Regions from separate parts of the Homo sapiens genome. Here region 1 is linked to region 2. The links come from fine-mapping of genetic effects on gene expression. Tissue or cell type: whole blood. Region 2 holds a variant in brackets; the other region holds the start of a gene. All regions are shown on one strand. Distances are from middle to middle. Region 1 holds the start of TLR4 (toll like receptor 4). Region 2 overlaps TLR4 (toll like receptor 4).

Region 1 (8,342 bases), 20 kb before region 2:
TTAACATCTCCGAAAACATAGTTGAAAGGACTTCCCTGGGCCCTTTTCCTTAGTTCCTCATCTAGACTATCAAGCGGTTTCCTCTCCAAATGATGGGAAGAAAGTGCATTTGTCTATTACACACTTGTATTACTCTATTCACTTAAGCACTGTGTCCCAGTAATGGGGTCTAGTTATGTCTGGCTTGAAATGACCCACATATTTGTTTCTCATTCTTAGGAAGTGGAGTGTTTCTGTATGTGTATATGTGATGGGGGTAGGCCAGGAGATTTTTTATCTAGGCAATACCCAGCCTGAAATCATTATTAGCATGACATGAGTTAAACGTATTTCTATTTTAGAAAGATGTTTTCAACAGCAGGATGAAGAATCAATTGGAAGAGCTGGTACATTGAAAGAGGTGAATCTAGACTTTGGGAGGCTTCTTAAAGTATATTGAACTAGTCTAGGCCGTGGGATATGTTCAATAGTAATGGTAGTAGAAATGGCGACTGACATTTTGGAATTATTTTACAGATACAATTTCTACAACTTGGTGGAACATTTTTTAAAATGTAGGTTTTATTATTCGGCTATGGTGAAAACAACAGATCAGAAGATGATGCCACTGGAAATATAGTTTGTTGTTTACAGTTCCTAAGAAGCGGGGGCATGCCACACCATGCAGGGCCACATTGGTAGCACCAGAGTCCGTCAGGAGGCAGAGGGAGCAAGAGGAAATTATAGGCACAAGCTTTTATTGTTGTTACTGCAGAAAAGGCAAGGCAAGGCAGGGTAAGCAGGGATAGGACTGGCTAGTTTGAATAACCTCAGTGGGCTCTGGGGTAGAGGGTCTGTCTCTAGTTGTCTGGTACCTGGACCTGTGATGATTAGGGCTGAATAACGGTGTCTACTTGGGTGTAAAAGCCAGGTAGAGGAGGTGGTTCAGAGGAAGGGCTCTGGATTGCTTAGTGTGCATAAGGCATGCTCCAGAGCAAATCTTTTGCTATTTTTTAGAACTAACTAGCCCTGGTAAGTGCAGTCTCTTCCCAGATGCCAGAACATCAAGAACACAGAAAAGAAGACAATTGGGTTAATACATGTTTAGCATGAGAAATGAGGAAGTAAGGGAAATAAAGTCAAAGAGATTTCCACCTTGGATGACTATGTCAAAGTGAAACACCATTAACTTTCCAGGGAACTAAACTTTATTGAGCACCTACTCTGTGTCAGGCACTGCTCTAAAATCTTTACATGAATAATCTCAATACTCAGAGCAAAGCTTTGACATGGAGGTTGTTTTTATCTTAACTCTACTGGTGTGTTGATGGAGTCTACAAGAGTTTGTGCCCAGTCCACCACAAAATGGTCCCTCACAGCTTGGTTTTTGACACGTTGGATTGGAAGTGCTTGGAGGATATTACAGTAGAACTATCTAGGACTTAGCATGCATAATATTCCTGTTTTAAATCAGGTTCTTATTTAACAGAAACTTACATTGCACTTGCTACTTTCCAGACACTGTCCTAAAAGCTTTACAAATGCCAGTTCATTTAATCCCAATACAATACTTTGAGATACATATTATCATCTTCATTCTATCCACATTTTCAATCCTCATCATAGCTCTCATTTATGGAATGTAATGATGATGCTCTAGACTAGACGTTTTACGTAAGTTAGCTTAATTCAGTAATTCAAAACACATGCGATTATCTTCGTTTTAAAGACCAGAAAACTAAAGGTTGGTAGGTTTGTATAATTTGACTACCATTGCGTATCTTTATTTTAATACATTTTATAAATGCAAGCTTCTGCTATGATTAAAAGTGATTACCACATTTTACAGACCAGAAAGTAATAATAAGTGTTGGTGAAGATGTGAAAAAATGAGAACTCCTGTACACCATTTGTGGGAATGTAAAATGGTACAGATGCTGTGGAGAATCATATGGTGGGTGCTCAAAAAATTAAAAATAGATTTACCACATGATCCAGCAATCTCACTTCTGAGTACGTATCCAAAAGAATTGAAAACAGAGACTTTAAGAGATATTTGTACAACCATGTTTATGGCAGCATTATTCACAATAGCTAACGTGTGGCAACAATGCAAGTGTCCATGAACAGACAAATGGATAAGCAAAATGTGGTCTATACATACAATGGAATATTGTTCAGCTTTAAAAAGGAAGGAGGCTTTGATCTATACTACACAGAAAAGAACCTTGAGGACATTATGCAAAGTGAAATAAGCCAGTGACAAAAAGATACATACTGTATGATTCCACTTCTAAGAGCTGCCTAGAGTAGTCAAGATTATAGAGACAAAAGTAGTGCATAGATTCAAGGGCCTAGGGAAAGGGGAAATGGGGAGTTATTTATTAATGAATAGTGGTGATGATTGTACAAAAATATGAACATAATTAATGCCACTAAATTGTACACATACAAATGGTCAAGATAATAAATTTTATGTTATGTCATGTTATGTTATGTGATTTTACCATAATACAGAAAATGAAAAAAGAAAAGAAAGAAAGTAAAGCTTAGCGGTTTACATGACTTGACCAATGCCTCAAAGCCATGAGTCACCCAGCTGAGATCTGAACTTCAGTATATTCCATTCTGAAATCCCAGACTTTTCCCAATCTTCTTGTACTTTTCAAACTGTGTTTCAGTTGAGGTTTATTTTCAGTTTTGTATGTGAGTTTCTTCACAAGAAGGGGCGGGCCAAATTGTGTCCTGCAAAAACCTACATATCGAAGTCCTAACCCCTCTACCTCAGACTATGACTGTATATGGAGAGAGAGCCTTGAAAGAGGTATGTAAGGTAGAATGAGGTCATTATGGTGGGCCCTAATCCAACATAACTGGTGTCCTTATAAGAAGGGGAGATTAGAATTCAGACACACTTGCTGACACCTTGAGTTCAGACTGGAAGCCTCTAGAATTGTGAGAAAATGAATGTCTGTTGTTTAAGCCACCCAGTCTGTGGTATTTCCTTATGGCAGCCCCAGCAAACTAATACAAATAGTGTTTCCACAGCTGAAACAAAATTGGAAAATCACCGTCATCCTAGAGAGTTACAAGGGCTATTTTAATAGAACCTGATTGTTTTCCTAAATTCACCAAGCCCAGGCAGAGGTCAGATGACTAATTGGGATAAAAGCCAACTAGCTTCCTCTTGCTGTTTCTTTAGCCACTGGTCTGCAGGCGTTTTCTTCTTCTAACTTCCTCTCCTGTGACAAAAGAGATAACTATTAGAGAAACAAAAGTCCAGAATGCTAAGGTTGCCGCTTTCACTTCCTCTCACCCTTTAGCCCAGAACTGCTTTGAATACACCAATTGCTGTGGGGCGGCTCGAGGAAGAGAAGACACCAGTGCCTCAGAAACTGCTCGGTCAGACGGTGATAGCGAGCCACGCATTCACAGGGCCACTGCTGCTCACAGAAGCAGTGAGGATGATGCCAGGATGATGTCTGCCTCGCGCCTGGCTGGGACTCTGATCCCAGCCATGGCCTTCCTCTCCTGCGTGAGACCAGAAAGCTGGGAGCCCTGCGTGGAGGTATGTGGCTGGAGTCAGCTCCTCTGAACTTTCCCTCACTTCTGCCCAGAACTTCTCACTGTGTGCCCTGGTTTGTTTATTTTTGCAAAAAAAAAAAAGAGTTAAATTACCTTAAAGACTCAAGAAGCCACAGAGATCAAATAATTCATTGTTACAGGGCACTAGAGGCAGCCATTGGGGGTTTGTTCCATTTGGAAATTTTGAGTGCTAACAGGGGCATGAGATAACATAGATCTGCTTAAGGTCCCTGCTCTGCTACCTTGTGGCTCTGTGAAGAAATTATCAAACCTGTCTGAGACTAGTTTTCGCATCTGTAAGAGAATTATAATACCTTCTTCACTAGAGAGTAAGCAGACTGCTTCAGTGTCATTTCTTCCCACTGGTGGTCTTTACACTCAGCTTCAAGCAGTCACCCTGCTCCTTTCAATCTCAGGAAAAAGATGGCTTTTGTGTGTGTGTCTCTAGAGAAAGAACTTTCTAAGTGGGTGTCAGACTTCTGTATGCAGTAATATAGTTTAGTCCAGAGGATGAAAAAAATAAGAGAATGAAAAAGGAAAAGAGAGAGAGAGAGAAGAAAAAAGCAAGAGGGAAATATGTATAATGTCAGCTAATGCAACAGTTTCTTTCTTAGTGAAATACCAATCAGCTGGTTGGTAATCTTATTCATGATGGATCTCTTTTGTTTTTCCCCTGCGCAGACTTCACAGTTGCTTTAGAAACCCATAGTAGAGCCGAACAGCTAAGAAAATGATTTACAGTGAGGCAGGGTCAGAAACTCAAGAGAGAAAAAGCCAGCTGCAGTCCTGAAGTTGAGGATATAGGAGAAAATCAAGTAATATTTAGCAAAGACTAATTCATTATCTTGAAGCCATCCCTTCCCTCAATTCCCTGCCCATAGTCCTCCTCCTTGTCCTCTTCTCTGTATCCCTCTGCTGTTAGGTTAATGGAGATAGATTTTCTAATTAGGCTCACTGCGAGATAAAACCACAGCCAAACTTGACTTCTTTTCCCCATGTACCTTTTCCTGTCAGTCCCTGAAGCCTGTCCATCCCTGCCCATCCCCTTAGTTCCACTGTAAGGCAGGCCCTCATTTCCCCTGGCATTGACTCTTACACACTAACTGCTTTCCTGATTCCAGTCTTCTTCCTTTAATTCATTCTGCACGTTCTTGTTTGTTATGTACTTGCATTTGTTGTTATTATTTTTCCTTAGGCTTCAATCTAACAAATTACTCTCCTTAAAAACTTTTAATAACTCTCCATTGCCATTAGAACAGCTTTCTACCACAGGGCCTTTGCACTGGCTATTTCTTCTACCTAGAATGCTAGATCAGTGCTATCCATTGGCAATATTATGTGAGCCACATATGTACTTTTAAAGTTTTTAGTAGCCTCATTAAAAAAAGAAACAAGTGAATTTAATTTCGATAATAGTTTTATTTAACTTAGCGTATTTAAAATAATGTTTAAAATTTTAATATATATTTACCTATTATTGATATTTTTACATTCCTTGTTTGGTACTAAGTCTGGAATTTAGTATATGTTTTACATTTACCACACTTCTCAATTTACACTATTCACATTTCTTGTGTTTGATAACTGTGTATGGCTAGTGACTACCGTATTGGTCAGTGCAGCCCAAGTCCTTTTCATGCTTTAATCACTCCATTCAGATCTCTGATTAAATGTCCCCTCCTCAGGGCAGTCTTCCTTGATTGCCCCATGTAGAGCTCTCCAGCCTCACTTATTTGCCTCAAATCCCCTTATACTGCTTAATATTTTTTTTTCTAGAGCACAACATTTTATATTTTTGTTTGTTTATTTTCTCTCTCTCCCTTTGTAATGGAATCGGTAAGGAGGCAGGATCATTGCTGGTTTTATTTACCACTATATTTCCAGTGGCCAGCACACAGTAGCCGCTAGATGTGTAAGTGATAAATGATTGAAATAATTGCTGCAGGACAAAGTCTGAGGCCCTCCTGATCTGGCTTGCCCTCTTACTTAGATTTCACCACTCCCACCACTCACCAGCTAATCTGAGTTTGTTTTCCACTCTTTACGTGCTCACGTTGTCCTCTCCTTAGGACATGTTTTTCTTCCCCTTTCCACATATCTAAACCTTACTCATCTTCCAAGACCCACTTTAAAATCTTCCTTTTCTGGGAAGCCTTTCCTGAATCCAGACTTGATCTCTGCTTTCTCTGAACCACAGGGCATATTTTCTAAGCCTATTTTATGGCCCCTTGAGATAGTGTTAGCTTTGCTCCTATCTAAACTCTTACTCTAGACTGTGAGTCCATTGAAGTCTGGAGCTGCATCATATTTTTCTTTGTAATGCCCACAGCACTTGGCAGGAAATGCCTACAATTTGGACTTAAGTAAACCTTCATTTAATCAGTTATTCAATCAGTTAGTGATTCAGCAAATATTTATTGAGCACCAACCATTTGCCAGACACCATTCTGAGTGCTGGAGACAAAGCAGTGGGCAAACCCATCAAACTTGCAATGGAATACAGGAGATGAACAATACGATGAGAACAATCAGATAGACAACATAATGTTAGATGGTTGTGCTTCCCGTGAAAGGGAATAAAAGAGGGCAAAGAAAGAGTGCCTGGCACTGTTTCTATTAGACAATATTGTCTTTGAGGCTCCATGGCTTGCAACATTTAAGCAGACATACGAATGAAGATCTGCATGTTTGAACTCTGACTTTGCGCATATTACTTCATTTCTTTGAATTTCCATTTTCCTCATCTTTAAATGCTTATTTGAAGATTAAGTGAAAGTATATAACAAACAAGAACTATGCAGGCATATGGTAAGGGATTAATGATAGATGATAATAATTAATGTTGACATCTATTGATCACTTATACTGTAGCGGGCTTTTAAATAAACTCTTTAAACACCTTATCTCATTTAATCCTTCAAACATTCTATTGGTTTCAAACAACAGAAAACTACAATTAGCTGGCTTCTGCAAGGAATTTTGTTGGAGGAAATGAGAGCATTCAGAAATTAGATGGGAGCGTTAGAGAATTAGGCTTACAAAGAATGTGGGAAAGTAGGCTAGAAAGCAGTGTAAAAACAAAGACAGCATAAAGCACTTGACCTTATTTACTAGGTTCCACCATGGGAATCCATGCACTCTAAAGATTTCCCCCTATTTCTACATCACTTTGCTCAAGGGTCAATGAGCCAAGAAAAAGAATGCAGTTGTCAAAATCTGGGCCATGACTAAGGAAGGTCTGGACATCTTGACTGCCAGACAGTCTCCCCAATGATATGGAGTATTTAAAATGATACTGGATATTTTATTTATTTTTTGTATTTTCAACTTTTAAGTTCAGAGGCACATGTGCAGAGCATGCAGGTTTATTACATAAGTAAATGTGTGCCATGGTGATTTGCTGCATAGATCATGAAAATATGGAACGCATCATGGATTTGTGTGTCATCCTTGTGCAGGGGCCATGCTCATCTTCTCTGTATCCTTCCAATTTTAGTGTATGTGCTACTGCAGCAAGCACGATATTGGATATTTTATTACCTACATTTTACATATGATAAAATGAGGCTCACTGAGGTTTTTCTTTTGTTCGTTTTATTTTGTTTTGTTTTTAAAGACTTGGCCCTAAACCACACAGAAGAGCTGGCATGAAACCCAGAGCTTTCAGACTCCGGAGCCTCAGCCCTTCACCCCGATTCCATTGCTTCTTGCTAAATGCTGCCGTTTTATCACGGAGGTTAGAATGCTGAGCACGTAGTAGGTGCTCTTTACTTTCTAATCTAGAGTAAGACAATTTATAAGCATGAATTGAGTGAATGGATGGATGGATATATGGATGGAAGGATGGACAGATGGATGAAAGGTTGACTGAATTTTGTGCTTGCACAAAAAGAGGCCCCTCTCCACCATCTCTGGTCTAGGAGAGGGGAGTTGGGAGACCATGCAGTAAAGATACTTCATGTCATGTGTAATCATTGCAGGTGGTTCCTAATATTACTTATCAATGCATGGAGCTGAATTTCTACAAAATCCCCGACAACCTCCCCTTCTCAACCAAGAACCTGGACCTGAGCTTTAATCCCCTGAGGCATTTAGGCAGCTATAGCTTCTTCAGTTTCCCAGAACTGCAGGTGCTGGATTTATCCAGGTAATGAATCCACTTTTACATACTGCACAAGGTGAGGTGTTCATTGTCCTGTCATTTCATTATTGGACTGGAAAGCTTGGTTTGTGGAGTCTCATCTTCATTCACTTATTCATTCATACAACAGATGTCTTATTAACTATATAACCTTGAGCAAGCTACCTCTATTCTCCAGGTCTCAGTTTTCTAATCTGTGAAGTAGGCAGTTGGCTGAGACAGCTTCTAAGGGCAATTCTAATTTTAGGTTTTCTTTTAAGACAGGAGAGAAAATTAGCTTAAATTCTTTCATAAGCAGCTATTTATTGACTACTTGCTATATGTTGTACACTCTGCAAGAAGACAGGCATATATTGATATATAACACACAGCCCCTGTTGTTAAGGAGGCATATCTTCTTGAAAGAGTTAATACCTTAAAGTCCTGGGTATGGTCCTGGGTACATAGTATATAGTCAACACATTTTAATTATGATTTTTTGGATCTGGAAACTGATATAAAGATAGCGACATATAACAGTAGGTGATAAATTATGTTTAAACTAAAGGTAACTAATTGTATTTTTCAGAAGAGGGGCCTTCTCTGTGGTGGGTAGTCAAGAAAGATTTCATGAACTGCATAAGATTCAAACAATGTC
Region 2 (8,342 bases):
AAGATCGGTTCCTTGATCTTGTGTCTCCAAATCACTTGCTCTCTCTCTTACATCTTTTCTATCTTCTTCTAGCCTCTTTTTGCAAACTTCATTTTGACAAAGAATTCCAGGCAGTCTACAGCTGATTTTATTTCAATACAACGATTAAAATGGAAACCATATATGAAGATGACAAAGTTGAGCAGGTCCCAAACTCTCACTTTTAAACAAATGCTTGGCTTAAGAATCACTTAATGACTTTCATTCTGCTATCTATGTGTCTGTGTATCTAGGTACTAATTATCTATCTTTATGATCTTTATTGCTAGAAATTCTGGTTCAATATCAGAGGTTAGTCCTAAGGAATTTATATTTTAAAATATTCTCCCAGTTTTCGTGCACAGACAGATTTGGGAATTACTGTTATAATGGAAAATGGAGAATAACCACCCACATTTAATATGGTTATTGGTTTTGTTCTTGAGATTTATTGCTAAGATTCATGATAGCCCAGGCAAGGTCAGATAATGTATTTTTATTTTACACTGTATAGTTGATTCTTCTCAATCCCACTAGATCAGACTCTTTGGGATACTAGGATTGGCCTATTTGATGGTGAGCTCACTACATCCATTTAGATGTTGTGTCCATGCAATCATTTTAGTTCTCCTAGTTTCTACCTATCACGTTGTCATTTTCCCTTCTTTATCATCCTGGGTAGCTGAGACCCCACATAAATATATACCAGAAAAATGTTGTGGTCTTTTCTAAACTCTCTGAGGCATCTGTTGTCAATGTGATGTTGTTTTTTGTTTCCAGTCCAAAATATATCAAAGTAAAATTTAACTCCACTTTTGCTAAGTATTCATCTTGCCTTGAGTACTAAGATTCCAAAAATGACTTTCCCCTCTGAAAAACACAGGATTTCCTTGCGAAAACTTGCTGGGCCACTGCCAATCTTCCCAGAAACTCCTTTTTCCTTATCGTTGAGGGGAATTGGGGAAGTGATCACTGACGGTTGAAATTCAGTAGTTTTGGTCTTTAAGCTGAGACCCTGAGTCTTCTGAGGAGTCTACTGCTCCCCAGTGGGAAACACCTGCTGTCAAAATTTTCCTGCTTGCAAAGAGCACTTTTGAAATTAATGGCAGGGGATGAATATCTGGCTAGTGCTGTGCTCAGCTGAGTTATTAATAGGGCCTTCTGAGTCCTCTCTACACATCATCTTTGGCTGAATTAGCTGTGGTTTCAGCACCTGAGAGTCTAGCACCACTAAAGGCAGGGAATACCTTTGCCAGTTTCTGGCATATTAACAGCTGAGATCAGATAAGTGAACAGCGATAGAGGTAGTGAGGTTTAGGATTCAGGTCTGCCACCGGGAGCGCACCTCTGGGCTCAGGTCTCTCATTTGTAAAATGGGACATTTAGGTCAGATCAGCATTTTCAAAAGTGTGACATGTTAGTAAATAAGATGATTTTATGTGGTTGACAGATGAATGTATTACCTTTAGTGGTTATATGTTTATTTTCATGGTTACTTTTATTTATAATAAATTTTGTGACTAGCTAAGAATCAATTATCTCTTTAAAATATATTTAAGTTTAAAATGTGGGCCAACTTAGGAAAAAAACGGGATGAAATGAATTATATAAAAGGTATGCAGATTTGGAAAAATTTTGAAGGTGTCACAAGAAAGATTGGCAGTCAGAAAGGAATGAACCAAACGGCTGCTGAGGGTCAGGCCAGCTCTCTGACATTCTAGCATGTTCACATCTCCAGGGCTGTTTCCTTACCTATAAATTGTGGCAATTGGAGTAAATGTCCATTCCAGGAATTCTATTCTATGATTAGAGGTGTAACTTCATCATCCAGATTTTCCAGCATCCTTAACATGTGGTTTTAGCGTTCTAAACCTGATGATGCTATATCAAAACGGGAGACTCATTCGTCAAGTCATGATGTATCCATGTATTTATAATATTTCCCATGTTCCCTCATTTCTGAAAAGGATTAAGCTATCAACCCCATTGAGTTATAGGTGAAAGGCTGTGGAAACAAGACATTGATAGTGAAATGGCTCCACCACTAACAGGCTGTTGAACAAAGGCAAATCTCTTGATCTCTTTGCTCTTTGGTCTCTGTTTATCTATGAGATAACGTTATTTTTACGCTGTCTTCTGTGAAAGTTTTGAGAATGAAATGAGACAGAGCCTCCAATAAAATTTAGGGAAGTGCTACATAAATGCAAGGAGTTATTATGATAACAGATTGAAAACTCCTCCAAGGAGGAGTTTCTCTTTTGCCCCATGTTATAAACTCAAGAATATCTTCCATTTTGCCTACATATTCCAAAAGCTTTTAAATTAAGCTATATGTCATTCTTACAGGAGTCTCCTCTATTTCAGCAATGTGTATACTTGGTCAGTTTTAATTATCTTAAAGGAGAAGAATACAGTTTCTCTAAACTCAAGCACTTTTGTGGACTAATCCTTGCAATTATTCTTTCTTCTTTCCCATACTTGACATTTAAAGTGATATCTCCCAGGCTCCTACACTGTTAGTCACAGAGGTACCATTCGACCCCTTGTGCCTCTTACCATATGTGAATGCTTGTCAGTTGAGAGTAAACTTTCTTCATAAATTTCACAGTTGTGGATTGATAAAAACAGAGAACTCTGGTTCCTCATTCCTTCCTGCTTTCTTTCTTGAAATGCCATTCATGATGGTCCCTTATATCACTATAGGGCTGCTATCATCCTTCATCCTTATGCCACTGCAAATAGCAACCAACAGTGTCCTTAGTGCCAGCACTCCCAGGCATGCCCCTTTCCAAGCAGCAGGGTCAAGCCGCTCCCTTCCTGAGCTGTGGCATCTGTCTCTAAATCATGCTTCCTCCTTGCCTGCTGCAGGCCCTTGTCTCTGCCCTTTACTTTTTCTGGCTCTTGCCACGGTTTTGAATAAAACTCTTCCAAATATCTGAAGCTCAATTCTGTTGCCATTCTAAGCTCTCTAAATGTCACCACAATCTTCCTTCCTTTGCATTTTCTTATTGTGCACTAAGTTAGTTCTTGCTTAGTAAGTCTTGTCTTTCTCTCTGCTTTGACCTGTCAGTATTCCAACTTCCTTATTTTTTGATGTTCATTTTCTCCTTGCTCTCTTTCTTCCTTTCTTGTCTGTGAACTCCATTAACCGCTTCTGCATGTGACCATTAATGTGCCTGTCTTTCTTCTCATGTATTAGAGAGAACAAAAGCTTTGGGAATCAGACAGATCTGTGTTCTGATCCTGTCTTATGGTATCTGTCTTGTTTGTCTCGGCTTAAAATGGGGATAATATCTACCTCTCAGTTTTGTTGGCAGTTCAGTACACGGAAATAAAGTTCTCACTTTCTTTTTTCTCCTTGAGAGTGTTCTTTATTTTACTCATCTGGCCATCTAATATTTATGAAGAAGCTACTCTGTGGTTGAAAAGGCACATGAAGCTGCAGAAGTAAATGACCAAGAAGTGCCCTCAAAGTTACGGAGTTCAGATTCATTTTGGCAAGAGAGGCATGTCAATACACACACACACACACACACACACACACACACACACACACACACAATGTTATGCCAAAATGCAGGGTGGTGGGGAGTGGAGGGTTGTTCTTCCTAGAAGCAATCAGAGAAGGCTTTACAGAGGAGGGCCCATTTGAGCTGGAAATTGTAAAAGAACAGCTCTGCAGATGGATCTTTAAATTCTTAACCTAAAAGAAGAGCAAAAATGTAAATGATAAATCTGGGAAGTAATAAGTAGAAGACCATGTATAGCAGAGTTGAGGAAAGAAACAATATAGTATAAATACTGAATTACATGAAAGCTAATAGTTAATTGGCATCAGTTGACCCTGACAAAGACATTTATCTGGACTATGTCTCAATTTGCTTATCTGTCAGTTAAGGATGATATATTAAATGAGTGCTTATACAAACAAAGTGCTTAAAACAGTGCAAGGCACTTCACAGTCATCAAAAATGCTAATTTTTTGTGTGCTTTCATTATGAAATGGGGAGCATACAGCCCGACAGAAGCCTAGGTAATGTCTCAGCATTAAGCCCACTGGTTTGTGGTGCCTTGCATTTAGGAGGCCCAAGTCCTTATCCTGGTGTTGATACAAACTTCCTGTGTGACACTGGGAAGCTATAACTCAGTCTTGACATAATACAACTTGTTCTTCGGCTTCAAAAACTTTCCCAGAATTGGAGTGACCCTACCCTCCCTTTCAAGAAACAGACAAACATCCTAGAATGTTACAACATAAGGGTTGAAGAAGCTGTTGTTAAGTGATCATCTTGTTACCACAAAATTGTTAAACTGCATAACAGAGTTATGCAATTTCTTCTT[C/G]CCCTATTTTTTATTTTATTTTTCCATAAGGTATTGGTATTTCATTACATGAGTAAGTTCTTTAGTGGTGACTTGTGAAATTTTGGTGCACCCGTCACCCAAGCAATATACACTGCACCATATTTGTAGTCTGTTATCCCTCTCCCTCTTGCCACTCACAGCATTTGGGGTGTCTTCTGGGTCCTGCAGGAGCAGTCCACTTCCTTGAGAGGTTTTGTGGGTCCTCTTGGGAATGTTGGTTTGTTCTTGCAGTCAATTTGGAGCTAAAATTCACAATGCAAGCCTCTGGATGCTGCTCTGTCTGGAGCTGCAATCTAGTCCTGACTCCTCTCTGCCATGATCCCCTCCATACACCTTCTTCTCTTATTTTTATGCCAATGAGTGAAGGCCTCAACCTGGCCTTCCCTGCCTCTTAGTTAGCCTCCTGTTCTGCCTGATGTCACAAGGATAGTGAGAGGCATGGTCTGGATTTGAACCAGATCTACCTGTTCCCACTGCACCATGCTGACTTTGTATGAAGAAGCCACCAGGCTAGTGGTGGTGGTGGTGGTAGTAGCAGTAGTGAAATTCTATTGATAATACTACCTCTACCAATAATAATAAAAAAGGGGAGAGATGGAGGAAAAGGGGTGGAGAATCAAGTGAGGAATCAACTGGAGCAGTTCTACTTGATTCTGTTTTATGTTTTGGGTTTCTTGTTGACGGTTTAGCTTTTGTGATCTTAATTTTTGTTCTTTTTTGTTTGTTTTTGTCATTTCCAAAACTTCTGCTCAGCTTTCTATCCACTATAGGGATTCTTTCTACTACCACAAAACAATAACAATAAAGATCATAATAATGAAAAAATACAACATTCTTAAGTCCATTTATACCAAGTGAAACAGTCTTTTAGCAGTTTTCACGAACCAGGCACTACGTTAGGTGTTTTACGTGCATGATCCCATTTAATATTCCCAACCACTCTGTGAGGCAGGTGTCTTCATCGCCATTTGGCAGAGGAGGAAACTGAGGCTAAGGGAGTTTGAACCGATCCATCCAAACAACTTAGCTAGTAAATTACAGATAGTAAGATGGAAGATTAGAACCCATATGTGCCTAATTCCAAAAGCTGAGCTCTTCAATCCTACCCTGAAATATCTCCTAAGTATGATTGTTCAGATTATGCTAAAAAATCCAGTGACAGAGCTGATTATTTCCTCAAATGTCTCATTTATTGTTTGGCAGCTCTGATGACAGATATAAAGATGGAGATACATAAACTGACTACATCAGTCCGCCTATGCATGAGAGTTGGCCCATTATTTTCACCTGTGATATGGAATAAGAACCAAGAGTTTTTTTTTTACATGCATTTGGATATGATATAAAGGCTTGCTATTGGAGTTGGATCCTGCCCTTTTCTCACCAGGAGATTCTGGCTGGCTTGGAGCAGAAAGCCTTTGTTCTGGGGTAGCAACACCAATATTCTGCCTAGGAGAAGCCTCCTGCAGAGTCTTTCTCTTTTTTTCAGCTTTGTTTGACCCTCAGTAAGGTGCTACTTGAGCTTTCTGGGAGGTAGAAAATGTTAAATGGATGTACACAGATATCCCCTCCTTTGTAAGTTCCATGGGAAATGTTTTAAAATGGGTTCATTGCTGTCTCCCAGTACACTGGGGTAGTGGAATACAATGTGTTTTTACGAAATGGGTGATGGATGTCATATACTCAGCATGGTGCTTGACACATGCTGTGTGGTCTCAACATGTGGTCAGCTTCAGTAACTAGCTGATAAGCAAGTGTTAGGGCAGTAGAATGAATTTCTCATAGGCATGGAAACTAGAAAGGCAACGAAGAGGCTGGGCTCAGTGGCTCACACCTGTAATCCCAGCACTTTGGGAGGCCCAGCCGGAAAGATCATGAGGTCAGGAGTCCAAGACCAGCCTGGCCAATATGGTGAAACCCCATCTCTACTAAAAATAAAAAAAAAACTACCCAGGCGTGGTGGCGCATGCCTGTAGTTCCAGCTACTGAGGTGCCTGAGGCAGGAGAATCGCTTGAACCTGGGAGGCAGAGGTTGCAGTGAGCCAAGATTGCTCCACTGCACTCTGGCCTGGGCATGAGAGCATGACTGCATCTCAAAAAAAAAAAAAAAAAAAAATAGGCAACTGAGAATCCCTATACTGCCATAGCGTGGATGGTAGAACAGGCATTATCCAGAACACTGTCTATTAATTTAAAAATGTTGACTGAGCTCATCCTACCTGCCAGCCCCTGAAGAGGAATGCCAGAAAAATCCAAATAAAGTATGACCTCCATGCTCAGGAGGGTCAAGTCTAACTGTGCAGACAGGGAAGAGCAGTATCCTGGGTACATTTCTAAAAGTGTATGCAAAGTATATTGGGTCATCTGGCAGCCAACTGACAATAAGTTTGCATTTCTGGAGAGCTTCCTCCATGCACAACACTCTTCAAAGTGCTTAAGTGAATTAATTAATCTACTCCACTCTAAAGATAGGAAACTTAGGCACAGTGCAGCTAAGAACCCCACCTTAGAGCATTACAAATCCAGAGGTCACAGAAGCAGGATTTGAACTAACCTGAGACAGATTTGAGCTCTTACCATACTTCTATCTACTTCTAGGAAATACAATAAAATAAAACACAACTGGGAGGCCAGGCATGGTGGCTCACAGCTGTAATCCTAGCACTTTGGGAGGCTGAGGCGGGCAGACCACTTGAGGCCAGGAGTTCAAGACCAGCCTGGCCAACATGATGAAACCCCATCTCTACCAAAAATACAAAAATTAGCTGAGCGTCATGGTGCAAAGGTGGCTGAGGCACGAGAATCACCTGAATCTGGGAGGCGGAGGTTGTAGTGAGCCAAGGGTGAACCATTGCACTTCAGCCTGGGTGACAGAGCAAGACTCCATTTCAGGAAAAAGAAAATCTTTATATCAACCCCATCCATTGGCAATATTGCCCTCCTCTTTTTAAAATAAAAAAATGTTAAAATTGGGGAAATATATACTGTGTGGCCACCATGACCCTGTTCCAGCAGGGACAAAAACAATGGGAAAAAAAAGCATGATTCTTAATCTCTTGGTAGGAGTTGATGATTTAGGTGACAGAGGGACAGACATGTAAACAAGTGGCTATATTGTAGTGTGACATACATGAGGTAAAGATTAGTGATTTGGGGTTTGGTGACAGACAGACCTAAATCACTGATCTACCACATAGAAGCTGTGTGACCTGGGGCAGGTTACGCTACTTAACCCTTCTGTTCCTAAGTTTCATCATCTAGTCTGGTACATTGAGGATACTGCAGATGTTTGCCTCAGAGAATTATAATGGGATAAAATACATTAATATGATGAATAGAAATTAATTGGCACACCATCATATAGTAAGCACTTAAATTTGTGATACCTATTATTACAATTGTTTTTAATAGTAAAAATAAAGGTGAGATAAAGAAGAAAAAAATTAGAAGGACAGCAGCAGGGAAGACCCAGAAGGGCCTGGAATGTCTCTTAAGGTGTTTAGAAATACTGAAGTTCTTTATTCTAGGGAGGGAAAAGATCGGAAATGAGATGTAACTCTGTTACTCAGGGGATGGTGTGGTGGGTGGATTGAAACGGAAAAGACTGGCCCTAGGAACCCATCAAAAGAACGTGGAGACTTTACCCTCAATTGCTTTGATGAATGTCAAAGAGATTCCTGATCTTGTTAGAAAATGAACTCAAAAATCACGAGACATAGATACTATAGCCCTTTTTAGCTCTGTCCCACAAAGCATGGAGTGGGACTTTCAGGGCCAGAAACACAATCTGTTCTTTTAGAGAGTTGGTAGCAACTGTGATGTCTCCTGTGGCCTGACCCAACAACTTGGGCTCCACTCATTTATCTCAATAGCTCAGGCAATAGATATATATAGAACAGTGGTGACAACAGGCAGAAGGTAATTTAATTTGAGCAAAAGCCTCAAGTGGAAGAGACAGGAGG

Evidence for each region. PIP is the estimated chance that this variant, and not a neighbour inherited with it, causes the effect.
Region 1: it holds the start of TLR4, and the variant in region 2 is fine-mapped to the expression of TLR4 in whole blood (TOPMed, PIP above 0.99).

Annotation. Positions count from the first base shown.
Region 1 is chr9:117,701,019-117,709,360 of GRCh38, forward strand. It overlaps TLR4 (toll like receptor 4), which reads left to right and starts at 3,385. Exons shown (of 3, transcript NM_138554.5): 1 at 3,385-3,547; 2 at 7,545-7,711. The coding sequence starts at 3,455. It also overlaps the pseudogene RNU6-1082P. RefSeq lists enhancers at 2,807-4,006, 2,954-3,454, 3,355-3,404, 3,415-3,484, 3,455-3,955 and 1 more.
Region 2 is chr9:117,721,356-117,729,697 of GRCh38, forward strand. It overlaps TLR4 (toll like receptor 4), which reads left to right. Exons shown (of 3, transcript NM_138554.5): 3 at 1-3,380. Among named protein-coding and RNA genes, the nearest start is that of TLR4, 21 kb to the left of the region's middle. The variant C/G (reference allele first, on the strand shown) is at 4,360.